Regions from separate parts of the Homo sapiens genome. Here region 1 is linked to region 2. A link means that fine-mapping ties the variant in region 2 to the expression of a gene that starts in the linked region. Tissue or cell type: subcutaneous fat. Region 2 holds a variant in brackets; the other region holds the start of a gene. All regions are shown on one strand. Distances are between the middles of the regions.

What was found. PIP is the estimated chance that this variant, and not a neighbour inherited with it, causes the effect. A credible set is the group of variants that fine-mapping cannot tell apart.
Region 1: SLC67A2 starts here. The variant in region 2 is the best candidate, but not a certain one, in a credible set for the expression of SLC67A2 in subcutaneous fat (GTEx, PIP 0.51).

Annotation. Positions count from the first base shown.
Region 1 is chr2:102,731,468-102,738,950 of GRCh38, forward strand. SLC67A2 (solute carrier family 67 member 2) reads right to left here and starts at 5,421. Exons shown (of 6, transcript NM_032718.5): 1 at 5,179-5,421; 2 at 855-942. The coding sequence starts at 5,343. It also overlaps a transcript of TMEM182 not described here. RefSeq lists a silencer at 5,328-5,537.
Region 2 is chr2:102,708,931-102,715,280 of GRCh38, forward strand. SLC9A2 (solute carrier family 9 member A2) reads left to right here. Exons shown (of 12, transcript NM_003048.6): 12 at 1-2,425. It overlaps SLC67A2 (solute carrier family 67 member 2), which reads right to left. Exons shown (of 6, transcript NM_032718.5): 6 at 5,700-6,350. Among named protein-coding and RNA genes, the nearest start is that of SLC67A2, 25 kb to the right of the region's middle. The variant G/T (reference allele first, on the strand shown) is at 3,600.

The DNA.
Region 1 (7,483 bases), 23 kb after region 2:
TGTCTCTTATATTTCTAATGTGTACTGGTTTTATAAAATGATTTATTTTATAAAGAATTTATATTTTTTTTACAGAGCTCTTTTACCTCCATTATCATGCAATGTGCCCTATCTGATTTTCCCAAAAACCTTCACACTGCTGGGTGGTCCAGTGTAATTCCAAGTACATTTGTCGAGGGAAATACAAATCACGGCATGGACCATGATTTAACAAATATTATGTACAAGACTGTCCACAAACACTTGCTTGTTTGGCTTGTGAATGATCAAGAGCTGTTAGTCTCAACAATTTCCCATTAGTTAGCATAGTCCTAAGCCCTGCTGTCTCTTGCCTTTTTGGTAAATCAATGACTTCTGGATGGAATTTTTAAGCTGCACAGGCAGAGAAACTCTACAATATCTATGATGTGTTGGTGACGGTGTGAGAAGCTTGCAACTAATTGGCTAATGTTCACCGAAACCCTTTCCCACGAGATGTGATTTCTGTAGATTATGTTTCCCTGGTCTCTCACATTAGGTTAAGGGTTCCTGTAGGCAGGAGTCCACATGTACCTACCCTTTTATACACACAGCCAGCTCCTTGCAGAGGCTCCATAAGTACCTGTTGCCACTAGTGGCATGGGACTTGGTTATAGTGCTCAAATCTCAAAATCTCTTTGAACATACGTCGTCTAGAAAAAAAGGAATTGCATTTGCTATAGGGTAATATTTTAAAATATTCTGGAAATTTGTTTTATCTCATTTCCCACTTACCTTTGGATAATATTTGGATACAAAATTGAATTGTTTTCAGGTACTTGGTTCAGAGGATTTAAAATTCAGTGCTCTAAAAATGAGCAATATCGACCACTCACCTACTATTCCAGCAACTGTTGGACTTGCTCCAAGGGACTTGACATGAAGGCTCAATAAAGGCACAACCATGCTGACACCAAACAAATCCTAAAACAAAATAAATGCTGATGGACTCAAATTAGTATTTTTCAAACTAGTAAACCTAAAAATTTAAACTAATTTAAAAAATAAAACCAATATCTAAAATTTTAAACACGTAAGAAATCATAATTGGATTCCATAGCATGCCATACAAATCCGCTGCCACTTGCAAATGCCTGGATTAGTCTGACCTGGGATCCGTTTTAACTTTACACTCAAGGAGGATATGCTACAGAAGTTCCTCAAACAAAACAGACAAAAAACCCCATATTTTCTGTGGATAAGTCATAAGAAAAAATGCAGTCATAATTTGTATTTATTGGTGAACCAGCACTTGCTTAAAAATATGTTTCCTTCTGGAGTTGGCGAAAGTGGCTAATGTCCTAGGACCTGTAGTTTATAAGCTTATAAAATAATACCTGAGAAGAAAGGCTCAGTAAAGCAAGAAGGAAGAAGCTGGTGCACTAGGGAAAGGCCAGTGTTTTGCAGCTAAGTCATAGAAAGTGAATGGGCTTTGGGGTCAGGCAGACAGTTCTCAATTCCACCTCCATCACTTACTAAACATGTGTCTTTGGAAAGCTACTTAAAGTTACCAAGCTTCCGTGCTGTCATCTGCAAAGGGTAGAACAGTAATACCTGCCTGGTAGAAATATGATGAGCATTAAGTGGCATAATGCTTGAGAAAGGCCTAATAAAACAATGTAAGCTCAAACATGTCTTCTCCCTTCTTCAGTTCTGGGGATAAGGACAGGTCCTTTTTGCTAGGTATTCTGAGTTAATAGACAGACTGTTAACTTTTCTTTTAATTTTGTTCTTATTCTCACTAGGTTACCTGCTACAGTTGGTTTAGTGGGAGAAAAAACATTGCACACACACAGTTTTCATTATATTCGACCTGAATTCCTTCTTTCATACAGCTGGTTAGTTGGAAAGAAAGAACTCGCATGAAATATGTATTTTCCTTGAGCTCAGAGTTAATCTTTTGTTCCCCCTTCCCTGTCCTGGTAGCTGTACATTCATATAACTATAGATACATAAATTTCCACATACTCTTTTCAGTGGGCCTTTTCCATGGTTACATCTTTAGATGACCCTGTTATCTAATATCAAGTGACTATAATTAGCTCTTAAAATTACATTACCAGAGTGATGGTTTATTATTTCAATATTGCCATTACTTAAAATTTCCTTTGGGTCTGAGTCCATTTCTTTTGGGCTTTGCTGTCAGTTGCATCTCATCAGCCCACTGATGTTTACACATTTAAAAGACTCAAAATGTACCAGCCACCTATTGAATCTTCTGGATCTTTCAGAAAAGGAAACTCAATTGTCCAATAACCATTTTTTTCCAAAAAAAAAAAGTCCCAGTACAACATATCATTTAATAAAATGGGTATCCTAAATAAGAGATGGAGAGAAATATTTAGGTCAAGAGACTGAGCTCTATGGAAGGTAAGTATGAAAATACAGACTCAAAGGCAATAACTGATGATTGGTATTACTTTAGCACTTGGTGAGTCTGAAAAGTACTATATTCTTCCAAGGAGACTGGCCACTGAATCTTTCCTCTCAGGAAGTTCTGTTCTAAAATTGCCTTCTCCTTTACTATAAAAGGCAACTCCTTTCTGCTTCTCAATCCATAGCTTCTTCAAAATCGCTGCATTTGGCATCTGGTCATGTGCATGTAACCACTTGTAAAAAGATCATGTCAGAAGGGGCCACTTAAACTTTCACTGAATATCAACATTTTTCAATAAAAATTGATGAATATGTACACTCAAAAGTTTCAAGACTCTTTTCAGGGTAGGAACCCCAGTAATTATTGATTACTGGACTATCTCAATGAAAATGAATTATCACCTGAATAAAGCTGATGGGATGGAAAACAAATCTCACCAAGTATCTGGAGGAAAAAAGTGGTTGAAATAATAGATCTCATCACCATCTAAGCATCCTAAACAAAACGGGCCTCAAGGGTCATCTTGGTCTTCCCTCCTAAACAAATTAAAACTTGGAAGTACGGATAACTGCTAAAACAGAACAATTTGGCAAATGACTTCTCTAAGCTTGTTCCCTTCCTCTCCCATTCAGAAACCATTTGTCCAAGAATCTTAGAGGTCTCTACATCCCTAAATATGTCAAAAAAAAACTAAATTATGTATAATGTTCCTTAGATGTTACCTAACAATCATCTGTTAGGTAGCTTTATGTGACTTTCATGTAAAGCTTCATATATTTAATTGTTTACAATATTTTCCATTAAAAAAATCCCTACTCTTTCAACTTTTGGGAAACCATAAACTTTTCCCTTAAGATATGAGACACCTAATGGTTCTCTTGAATACATTATTAAAGTTATTAAAATTCTGTATCAGGCTTGCTAGATTAGACTTGCCAAATACACAGCATAAAGAAAACATATGATAAATTGTGAATATTCAAATCTGTATTGGAAGGCTGACCTTAACAAATGATCTGCGAATTGCTTTGTTTTATTCTAATACTAAAACTACTTTGAATTCTAAGTCAAATTCTCTGAACCCTAGTCTGGACTTTCCAGGTAAGGGCTCAAATGTTTTCATCTGGCTGAACCAGCCCAAGTCCCTTCTGAGACAGGACAGCAGTAGCTTGGGACCCATAACTAAAAAGGCTGGATGTCAGCCAACTCCTCTCCAAGAACCACCCATACTCACTGGTTGTGAATTCTAGGTGCCTAGACTGAAAAGTAGAAGAAGCATCCCCATGCTGAGAATGAACTACTAGATTAAAGGAATAGTGGTCAGAAGGAGTGCCAGTCTCTGAAGTTAAAGGCATGGAGCTGGAGGGTGGATCCTGCAATGGCCTAGAGGCAGAGAAATCCTCTCTAAAAAGCCGCCCTCCCTGAAGACCTTGTGTTTCTGGGCTTGCAGCAATTTGATGAACATGCTTTCATGGTGATCTTAACTATTAACTCAACATAGAGTTGCTACCAACTGAACGCCTTGCATGGAGGTGGTGGCATGGAGAGTGCATGAAACTGGGAGAAGTGGTGGTCTTGATCTGCATCTGGGCAGAAAACGATGACTCCCTGCCAGGGCCCAGTGCCATCAGATACTATCTTCAAGGCCTCAAAGGCAGCCTTCTCCCATTGACACTTATCGCAGCTTCCTTACCCTCAAGATACTGGATTAGCTCACACTCAGGGCTGAATCAGGCCTAGCCTTGGAAAGGGAGGAGTGCAGAGGTGGATCTAGGGTTCTTGCAGATAATGGCCCAGAAACTACCAACATCAGCTTACTTGTAAGACTGAATTCTTCTGTGGCAGAACTGTGGATTACAATAGTGAAGCTCCGCAGCACCTGCCACATGGCAGGTGTTCAGAAATGCCATGAATCAGCTTACTAAACTTTCCATTCTACGTGGGAAATTAGCACTCAGGGAGCAAACCAGGACACGCGCGCGCGCACACACACACACACACACACACGATGAAACCAAACCGCCATTGTGCAATGCACACCCTTTGTCCAAAGGTAGATGGGTACAATTCACTCTGATCTGCATTTTTAAACATTCAAGTCAACCGAGAGCTCTAGTGAAAATGCACCCAATTCTGTACAAGTGGGGTCATCAACAGCGGCTTCTCCAGCCTGGTCTGGTAAAAAAGCAAACCACAGGCACACACATCATGATGAAACCAAACCTACGCTGTGCAATGCGCAGTTTGTCGAAAGGCAGATGGGTAAAATTCACTCTGATCTGCATTTTTTAATATTTAAGTCAACCAAGAATCCTAGTGAAAATGTGCCTAAATCTGTCCAAGCGGGGTCAAGAGCGGCCTCCCCTGCCTGTTCTGGTAAAAAGGCTTGCGTGTCCCTACCTCACCAGCAGCCGCACAGCAGCTGGGCTTTTCCAAGCTTGCCCACACCCCTGTTCTCCGCCCTGCAAAAGCTGCACCTGCCACAGCATTTAACACCTGGTCACACCTGAGGTTGGTACCAGGGCTTCTCAAAAGGCAGGGAAGGGAAGACGTTCCGCGAACGGGGTGCAAGAGAAAGCGCGAGGGGCAATAAAGCAGTGTGGCCAGATGCAGACTGAAGTGGGTGATAGGGCAAGAGGAGAGCTTGATAGGTAGTGAGGCACTCACCAGGCGGACTGCGGGTTCCCACTCCCTGGGAGCTCCCCGGAAGCTCCAAGAACCGCCTGGGTCCCCAGGCCCGAACACAGTCAGCACTTGCTCCCAGCCCCCACGCTCGCACTCACCAAGAAGCCCACCAAGTAGAGACAGAGCAGGAAGCGGCGGGCTCCGACGGCACCGGAGTCGGCAGCCTCCGCCTCGGTTCCTGTCTTCTGCTCCTGTTTCCGCTCTGCGGTCTCCGAGACCAGCCTCGGGGCCGAGTTCATGTCCCAGTGACCCCCAAGCTCCATACCCGCGCCGGCCGGGGGTCGGACGCAGCAGCAGCCGCGGACCTACCCCGGGAGCCCAGCCCCGCCCCGAGCGGAAGCAGGAGGCGCGCGCCTGCGCAGAGAGAGGGGGCGGGTGCTACCTGGCAGCTCCGCGGGTGCGTGGCCGGTGCTGGCTGGGAGTTCTGGTCTCAGGCAAGGTGGGGACTGGGCACATCATCAATACGGTAAGCACACACCAGTTTGTGATGATAATGATGATGCTCTTTGTTTCCTCTGGGTACAGACCCTGCTGCCCCTATCGTTGGAGGACAGGAGGGAATTGTATTGAGCTTCACTTCCTCCTATGGAGTTGTGCTAGGAGGTGACCAACTCCAGCTTGAAGATCCACAGACCCTGGCCACCAGTTGGTTGTGACAGACCTAGGATACGTTAACGTGGCTCTCCAAGCTTTCGTTTGCCTATTTAAAAAGCAGTAGGAAATAATGTAGTCCAACTTCTAGAGGTGTGAGAATTCTACACATGCTTCTTAAGATCCTTTCTGGTGCAGTGCAATGTGAACAAACCATAGATGGTCTATGCCTGAGTTGAGATTACAGTCTCATGGAGTAAAAATAATAAGCACGCAGTAAATAAACATAAATAAAAATACTAAACATGCAATGAAAAAGCATAAAATAAGTAAAATAATATGGTGATAATATAAAGAAGCACGGTCTTGATGTGGAAAGTAATGAGGTGGGGAGTGAGCTACTTTAGAAAAGCAGTTTGGAGGAGGTGACATGTAAGCTGAGAAGAGTGGAAAGAAGATATGTGTGGCTGAAACTTCCTCATCAAACTGAGAGGTCAGCAGGAGTGCAGACCATTTAGGACCCAGAAGGCCATAACAGAGATTTGGGGTTTATTCTGAGTGCAGTGAAAGGAATTAAGTGAGTGCATGACACCAAAAGATGCCTTTAAATTACTTAGCAAAGCCCATGACACATGGTAAGTAATAAATGTTAACAATAGTGACTAGCCCCTCTTTTCTTTAGAACTTGTTATTTATTCCTCTTTCACTGTGGGATCAAGAAGACTCTGACATTTTACTGAGATTTTGCTCAAAATCTCAATTTACTTGTGTAGGTTGCTAATTCTGAGATCTGTTAAATTCAGTGTTGCAAAGTTTCTCATGGGAGGTGGCACTGAATAGGGAGAAGTGGAATACTGATACTTAGAATTAAGACATATAATTGAATCCAGGTGAAACTGTCAATCGTGAACCCCCAAGTTATTCTGAGACTCCTTTGCAGGAGAACTAGTTTGCTCTCCTATAGCTGAGGAAACTAGTCTTTTTGTGCTTGAAATTTTGTGAGTAACTCATCTGGGAAAGGCGCCTTGAAAGGGCTGCTCATGTTAACCCATTAAAACCACTCACTGTGGCTACTAAATACATAGCTAGGGTGAAATTTTAGCATGCTCTGGTGACAGGTACACATTATAACCTAGGAGGACATCTCATACACGCCAAAAGAATTGGAAGTCACGGCCAGGCGCGGTGGCTCACACCTGTAATCCCAGGACTTTGGGAAGCCAGGGTGGGCAGATCACAAGGTCAAGAGATCGAGACTATCCTGGCCAACATGGTGAAACCCTGTCTCTACTAAAAATACAAAAAATTTAGCTGGGCGTGGTGGTGCGCGCCTGTAGTCCCAGCTACTTGGGAGGCTGAGGCAGGAGAGCTTGAACCCGGGAGGCAGAGGTTGCAGTGAGCTGAGATCGCCCCACTGCACTCCAGCCTGGCAACAGAGGGAGACTCTGTGTAAAAATAATAATAATAAAAGATTTGGAAGTCTCTGCTAATATATAATCAATGTAAACTTTAGAAACCTGGGGGAGAGATTTCTAAGGGTGTCAGACAAAAAAAGGGAATAATATAACACTAAATTAGGCAGAATTCACTAGTATAGATGCATTTACAACATATACCGATGTAATATGTTAGCTTGTGCAGCTGGAGGCAGCTCTAGTAGTTTAGTCAGTTGGTTGAAATTTAGACTCAAAGATGGCCTATATTTAATGATGTTCAGATGCCAGAGTTTTCCTGGCAAAATGTGGATAAAGGACTCCAAAAGTTTTGGAAAAATGACAATGTCAGAGTGGATTTATTATGTATGACTTGCAA
Region 2 (6,350 bases):
TGAAGGATGGCGCTCGGGGGTGACTCCTAAGCTCAGCGTGGAAGCTTTTCCCTGTCCTGACCCGATGGAGCAGCCGGTAAGTGAAGAGCACAGCTGGAAGCAGAGACACCTTATGACTCAAACTGGGCAAACAATCGGAACGTCATGCAGAAGGAATGGCCTGACTCCTGCAGTGCAGATTGGAGGCCCCAGAACTCCTATGAACTACTGAGAGTCTACTGGTTTTTAACTTGTTCCTCTGTCTACTGTGTGTTTGGGGGTGACATCTAAATTCCATTTCTTCTTCTTGTTTAAATGGTGCAGAGAGAAAGGTTGCCCAGACATCCACCAGCTTACTGTGTTGACAGATTTGGGAGCAGCTTTTGATGAAGTTCCACCCATGAGGGTCCATGTGGCAAGTAGGGCCACAGGGCAGCACCTGGTTACAACTTGCTGGTGGGTTTTATGTTGTGCAATACTAGGAGGAGGAGGCAGGTGATCTATGCTGATCTATGATCACCTGCTTCAGTAGAATTTTTCTGTAGAGTGTTGTTTGAATTTTGAGCCTCCAGGTTAGAGGCTCCAAGCAGACAAAGAAGAAAGTTTGTAGACACAATATTCTAACATTGCACAAGTTGATGAGATATCAAGTTTTGAATATTATTCAGGAAGCACTTTGGAGAATGTGGGAGTCCTACTGTTTTGCACTAGTCTGTAATTTGTTACCTCTCCCCATTCGATAATATAGTAACTCAGAATTTTCATATAAAATTGAATTCTACTCATTAGAGTACTTTTTAAAAGTACAGCAGAAAGAAAAGAAGTGGAACATAAGCATTCAAGATTAATATTTGATTCTCTATCTCTTAACTGTAGATTTTATTGGCCTGTTTTTTTTTTCTAAATAATTCTTTAAAACTTGACTGGAACATGCCTCTGCATTTCTGAGTGTAGAAATTAAATGAAGCCACTCACAGTCCTTTGATTTCCCACTGAAGATACCCCAAAGGATGCAAGTGCCTACAGTATTATCAGGAGGAGAACATGAAAATATTAAGACAAAAATCCTCAGCAGTTGTTCTCCACCCCTTCTCCACCTCCACCAGCAAGGAGAAGTCAATCTACACTTTTTTCTCATGTTCTAAAGTCTTAGAATACTGCTGGATTGTTGAGCATGAGACAGAGCAAAGGTTAGATACACAAGGTACAAGTTCATAGGAGCACAATTCCTTGATTCAGGGAAAGTAGCACAGAATGCAATTTGAAAACTACAGGCTTAGGACTCTGTGCCAAAAATCTCTATTTTAAATGAAAATATTTATATAAAAATACATTTATTCTGCTTAACACAAATTAAAACTGACATAAAATTTTATGATAATAACATGATTCAAGAAATGTGATGTAGATTTTTGAGAATGCCAAAAATCAGGTTTCAGAAAAGCTACAGTATGAAATCTGAAAAGCAACAGAAATTGAAAGTGACCTTAAAGAATAAATTTCCTAATTTTTCCCAGTTTCCTATGTTTATAACTATTATAAAGAGTTTAACTTTCTGGAACTGAAGGAGAAAACATGAAAATGTTTATATTGCTTCTTGTTAAGCAGGTAGACCAAATTCCGCTTTCAGTAATTCATCCATACAGAATTTGGATGACTATGTATAAAGGAAAACTTAAATCTTAATTATTATCAGTTTAAATTTTTTTTGTTTGTTGAATGACAAAGGCAATAAAAATAAATTTGACTTTAGCTTTTTTTCTATACTTTCCTCTTTTTGTAATTCTTAAATTCTAGTCACTAGTCATTATGAGAGTATTGACTAAATATTTTCACAATCTAAATATTGTCACAATCTAAATTTCTGTAGTAGAGAGAGCCGTAGCCCTTTGTAAAGGCTTTCGTTCGTCCAAACAACACTTGATCCAACCAAAGTTCCAATGTGACTGTGGATCTTTGATAGGTCTTTGGTGTTGGTTGTAACAAAATTTGATTTGAACTACCTATAAATGAAAAGTCGGGGTTTATTACTTTATATGTAATGCTGAGAGGAGACTGTTGGGAACAGTTATGTCAATGAGCAAACTAGAAATTGGCTTCAAAGTCTAATACTTTTAAAAGCATGTGTTTTGTGTATATGCTCACAAAATGTCTGTGAAGAGATTTCTTTCAGCTTTTGCTCAGCTTTATGGTGGGGTGTACTGTTTTATCTGGGCGGTGAGGGTATTGATTTACATAAAAACTGTAGACAAACACAGTACGAGTCTCAGCACGTTTTGCATTTATTGTACTGCCCAAATTGTTTTTATGTTAAAAGTCACGTTTCATAATCTGCAATATTTTTGTCAAAGTGCACACTGTACTTTCTTCTTAAAAACGTGATTAAAGAGATCACTTTGTCCGGATGAAGCAGCTGTTGGCATTATCCGCTGAGGCTTGAACACCACGTGCTGATTCTCTCATCAATCTGAAAAATAACACTCGTGGCTCAGAACACACAAGGTTAAAGTGTGTGGCGCACTGCTACTTTTTATCTCACTTTTTAACCAACCCTTTCTTCAACCCTCTTCTAAGGAAAGCAGAAGTCCCCTTTGGGTACCAGCTGTGTGGCATAACCATGGCTCCTTGTCCCTGACAGATGACACCTTCCTTTAGAATCCACCAGCATCATCCACTCTGCGTCTAGCTGACACCCTCAGACAGGGATCAGCCACCCTGGGGCGTGCAGGTCAAATATGCAGATGGGGACTTTGCAGACCACTTCAGTGTCACGCTGGCACATCATTTTTGATCCTTTTTCCTTTTTAAACTTCCTGCACCTTTTCAGATAAAATCATATTTTACTATGTATAGCTAATAAATCGTAGTTTTGTTCTCTTAATCGCATGGTCAGGAAATGAGTTTTTCTAGGTGTAGAGTTAACCTGTCTACTGTGAATGGATTATTATCAACTTTTCAATCTACACAGCATAGAGATTATTTTGATGGCTCAGAACATACGTCAAGAACTTTCAGTATGTGCAGAGGTTGTATGGGAATCTGTTGTTCTCCTACTGGAGGGTACGGAAATGTCACTCCATGAGATGCCCAGCAGACAGAATACCAGATACAGAGGCTGTGATTTTTCTGATTTCTGGAACAAAACATCTTGAATTAAAAATTCAGACATTTTAATCCTTTTTTATTTTATTGGCTCCTGCTGAGTCATAAGTATGACTGGAGACTAAATTTCTAATTTAGATGAAGCTCTTTGTATCCACTTAGGATAACCCTGCTTACCAAACAAATTTTGTATATGTACACGGACAAAGGAAATTTTTCCTTGTTTCTATGAAAAATCTTACCAAAGTTTAAATATTAAATCACATGTAAACCTTTAATCACTTATGGAGAAAATAGTACATACATGAAAACAGAACAGTCCCAGTTTTTGTATTTGTGTATGAAACCACTCTCATTTATGTTGAATGGGATTGTGATGGCTAGAATTCTTCAAAGGTAAGAGCTTCAGAGTATTGAAAATTTCAATTCTATTAATTCCAAATACATATATCTCAGACTAGGCTAACTCTATTACAGTGTAATAGAACGTGATTAGAGGAATAAACATTTTAATTGGT[G/T]CATTAATTTTTATATCTAAAAAGGCTCTGCAAAAGGGCTCAAAAATGGTGTATGCTTTTAAATATTAAATACGGCCTTCCCATGCAAACGTAAAGAAAAGAAGTTAATTCCAATTATTGCCTTAATAATTTTTAAAGATTATGCAAAGATGTGTATTAACACATCAAATTTTAGGTTTCCATGAATACATAGTTTGGCATCTGATTAATAAATAATAGATTTGCTACCATAACTATGTCTTACTATTGAACCTTTAGTTTAAGTCCTGACCTTTAGCTAGAAAGTTATTTTGAATGGCAGTAACAGTTCATCATGCTTTCAGTGCTATTCACTCCAAAGAGATGCACAGTGAAGGTACTTTGAAGGTGCCCCAAAGAAAATGCTCACCCTTGTCAGTGACGTCACAGACTGGGCCTGACAGATGTTAGGCTTTGAGATGGCCAGGCCTATGCTTCAGCCCCACAGAACAGACTACTTAAGGCAAACACCTACCAAGTCGCATACATACAGCCCCACAAGGGTCCAGCCCGAGTCAGCGGCAGAACACCTTTATTAGGTTTGCTTTGGATATTTCATGTGGTTTCAATTTCATTAAGCAAACTTGGGACAGGTTTAGGTAGGTAAGCTATCACACAAAAAACTAGTTCTGTCTGGATAAGAGGCTGTGTCTCAACTACTCAAAATGGCATGGAGATTCTTTGGTAAGCTTGAAGGAAGACTGTCTCCTATCCATGTTATAAGTTGCAATCATTAATAGGTATTTTAACCACTTTCTTCCTCTACAGTGGATGCTTAGAAAAAAGAACTGTATCAAGATGTAGTATAAAGACTGATCAAAATACAATTCTTTGTTCAAACAAGATCCTTACAGTTCATTCTTACGCTGTGTAAGTTATCAGCAATAATTAACACTCCTTCCTTAATGTTTATAATTATCTTCTCCCTGGAAGGAACAATACAAGCTGTGTTAAGTCACTTTTAAAAATAAGAATCAGTGGCCAGGCACCGTTGCTCACGCCTGTAATCCTAGCACTCTGGGAGGCAGAGGTGGGCGGATCGCCTGAGGTCAGGGGTTTGAGACCAGCCTGGCTAACATAGTGAAACCCTGTCTCTACTAAAAATACAAAAATTATCTGGGCGTGGTGGCGCGTGCCTGTAGTCCCAGCAACTCGGGAGGCTGAGGCAGGAGAATTGCTTGAACCCGGAAGCAGAGGTTGCAGTGAGCCAAGATTGTGCCATTGCACTCCAGCCTGAGCAACAGAGTGAGACTCCATCTCATAAATAAACGTTTCTTATAATATACTGAAACAGGAAAACAGAAGTTTTGCTTTTATTGTTTTAGTAGACAGCTATCTATAAAATGGTGTTTAGATACCTGTTTGGGAAAAATGAGAGATCTAAGTATTTGTGCATCTGCTTAACTAGAAATAAATCCTACTGTGAGATGTTACCTTAAAAGTACAGTTGACCCTTCAGCAACACAGAGTTGAACTATACAGGTCCACTTAAACGGGGATTTTCTTCCATCTCTGCCACCCCTAAGACAGCAAGATCAATCCCTTCTTCTCCTCCTCCCCCTCAGCCTACTCAAAATGAAGGTGGCAAGGATGAAGACCCTTATGATTCCATTTCCACTTAATAATATTATTTTTCTTTTTCTTAACATTTTTTCTCTAGCTTACTTCATTGTAAAAATACAGTATATATGTAACACACAAAATACATGTCAGTCGACTATTAATATTGTTGGTAGGGCTTCATGTCAACAGTAAGCTATTAGTAGTAAATTTTTAGAGAGTCAAAAGTTACACTCAAATTTTCTACCGTTTTGGGGGCTTGGCACTCCTAACCCCTGTGTTGTTCAAGGATCAACTGTCCTCTACTTACTGGCCTTCAGTATAAATGTCAGATTACATATATATTTGGTATCTGCATAATGGTTTTAAAAGCCAAAGCCTTGTTTTTAATATTAAGATGTGTTCTAGCATACTGGAGATGACATTTTTCAAAGCACTTCTGGATCCTGAATTGAAATATGTAGCAAGACACATCAGTGACTTCTAAAAATACAACTTATAAGAATAAATGACAGTTCCTCATTACAATTATAAAGTTTTATTTTTGAAGAAAATTATCATGTGACTGGCAAATTCAAGAAAAAAACATTAGAGCTGAAAAAAAGTTATTTTAATCCATCAACCTGTTCCAAGAAAAGCTGCTACACATCATCCTGGCTAAATCTGTGGTAACCCTGTTTTAGAGACTTCTTGAAGGCTACTAGGGGGCAAAGAGGCATGGAGATTCAGTCTCATGGCTTTTATTATGCATTCCAAATAAATAGCTGTTTTCTGAATGCAGTTGCCCAAATGCCTAAAATTTTCTGACTGGACTGATTCTCACTCCTGATAGATTTCTAAATACCTTATAGAAGTGTCTTCAGGAAAAGACGCCAAGCAACCCTTTGAAATTCCTCAAAGCTGCACACTCATCACCTGGGAATTATTCACAACCTCTCCTGCGATTGCCCTGTGGGCCACAACCTCTGCCTGCTGTCCCTGTCCTCGCGACCAGCTCTCCCTCAGGGCCCCCCTAAAGTTACTGCCCCAAAGTCCAGACTACTCCTTGGGCCTCCAGTTAATCCTCCTTGCTGCGGCTAGAGAGCTCTTTCTAAAACAGGAGTGTCTTCACAGCACTTTACCGCAGGAATTCTTCCGTCATTCCCCTTCATCCGTCAATACAATCTCAACCCG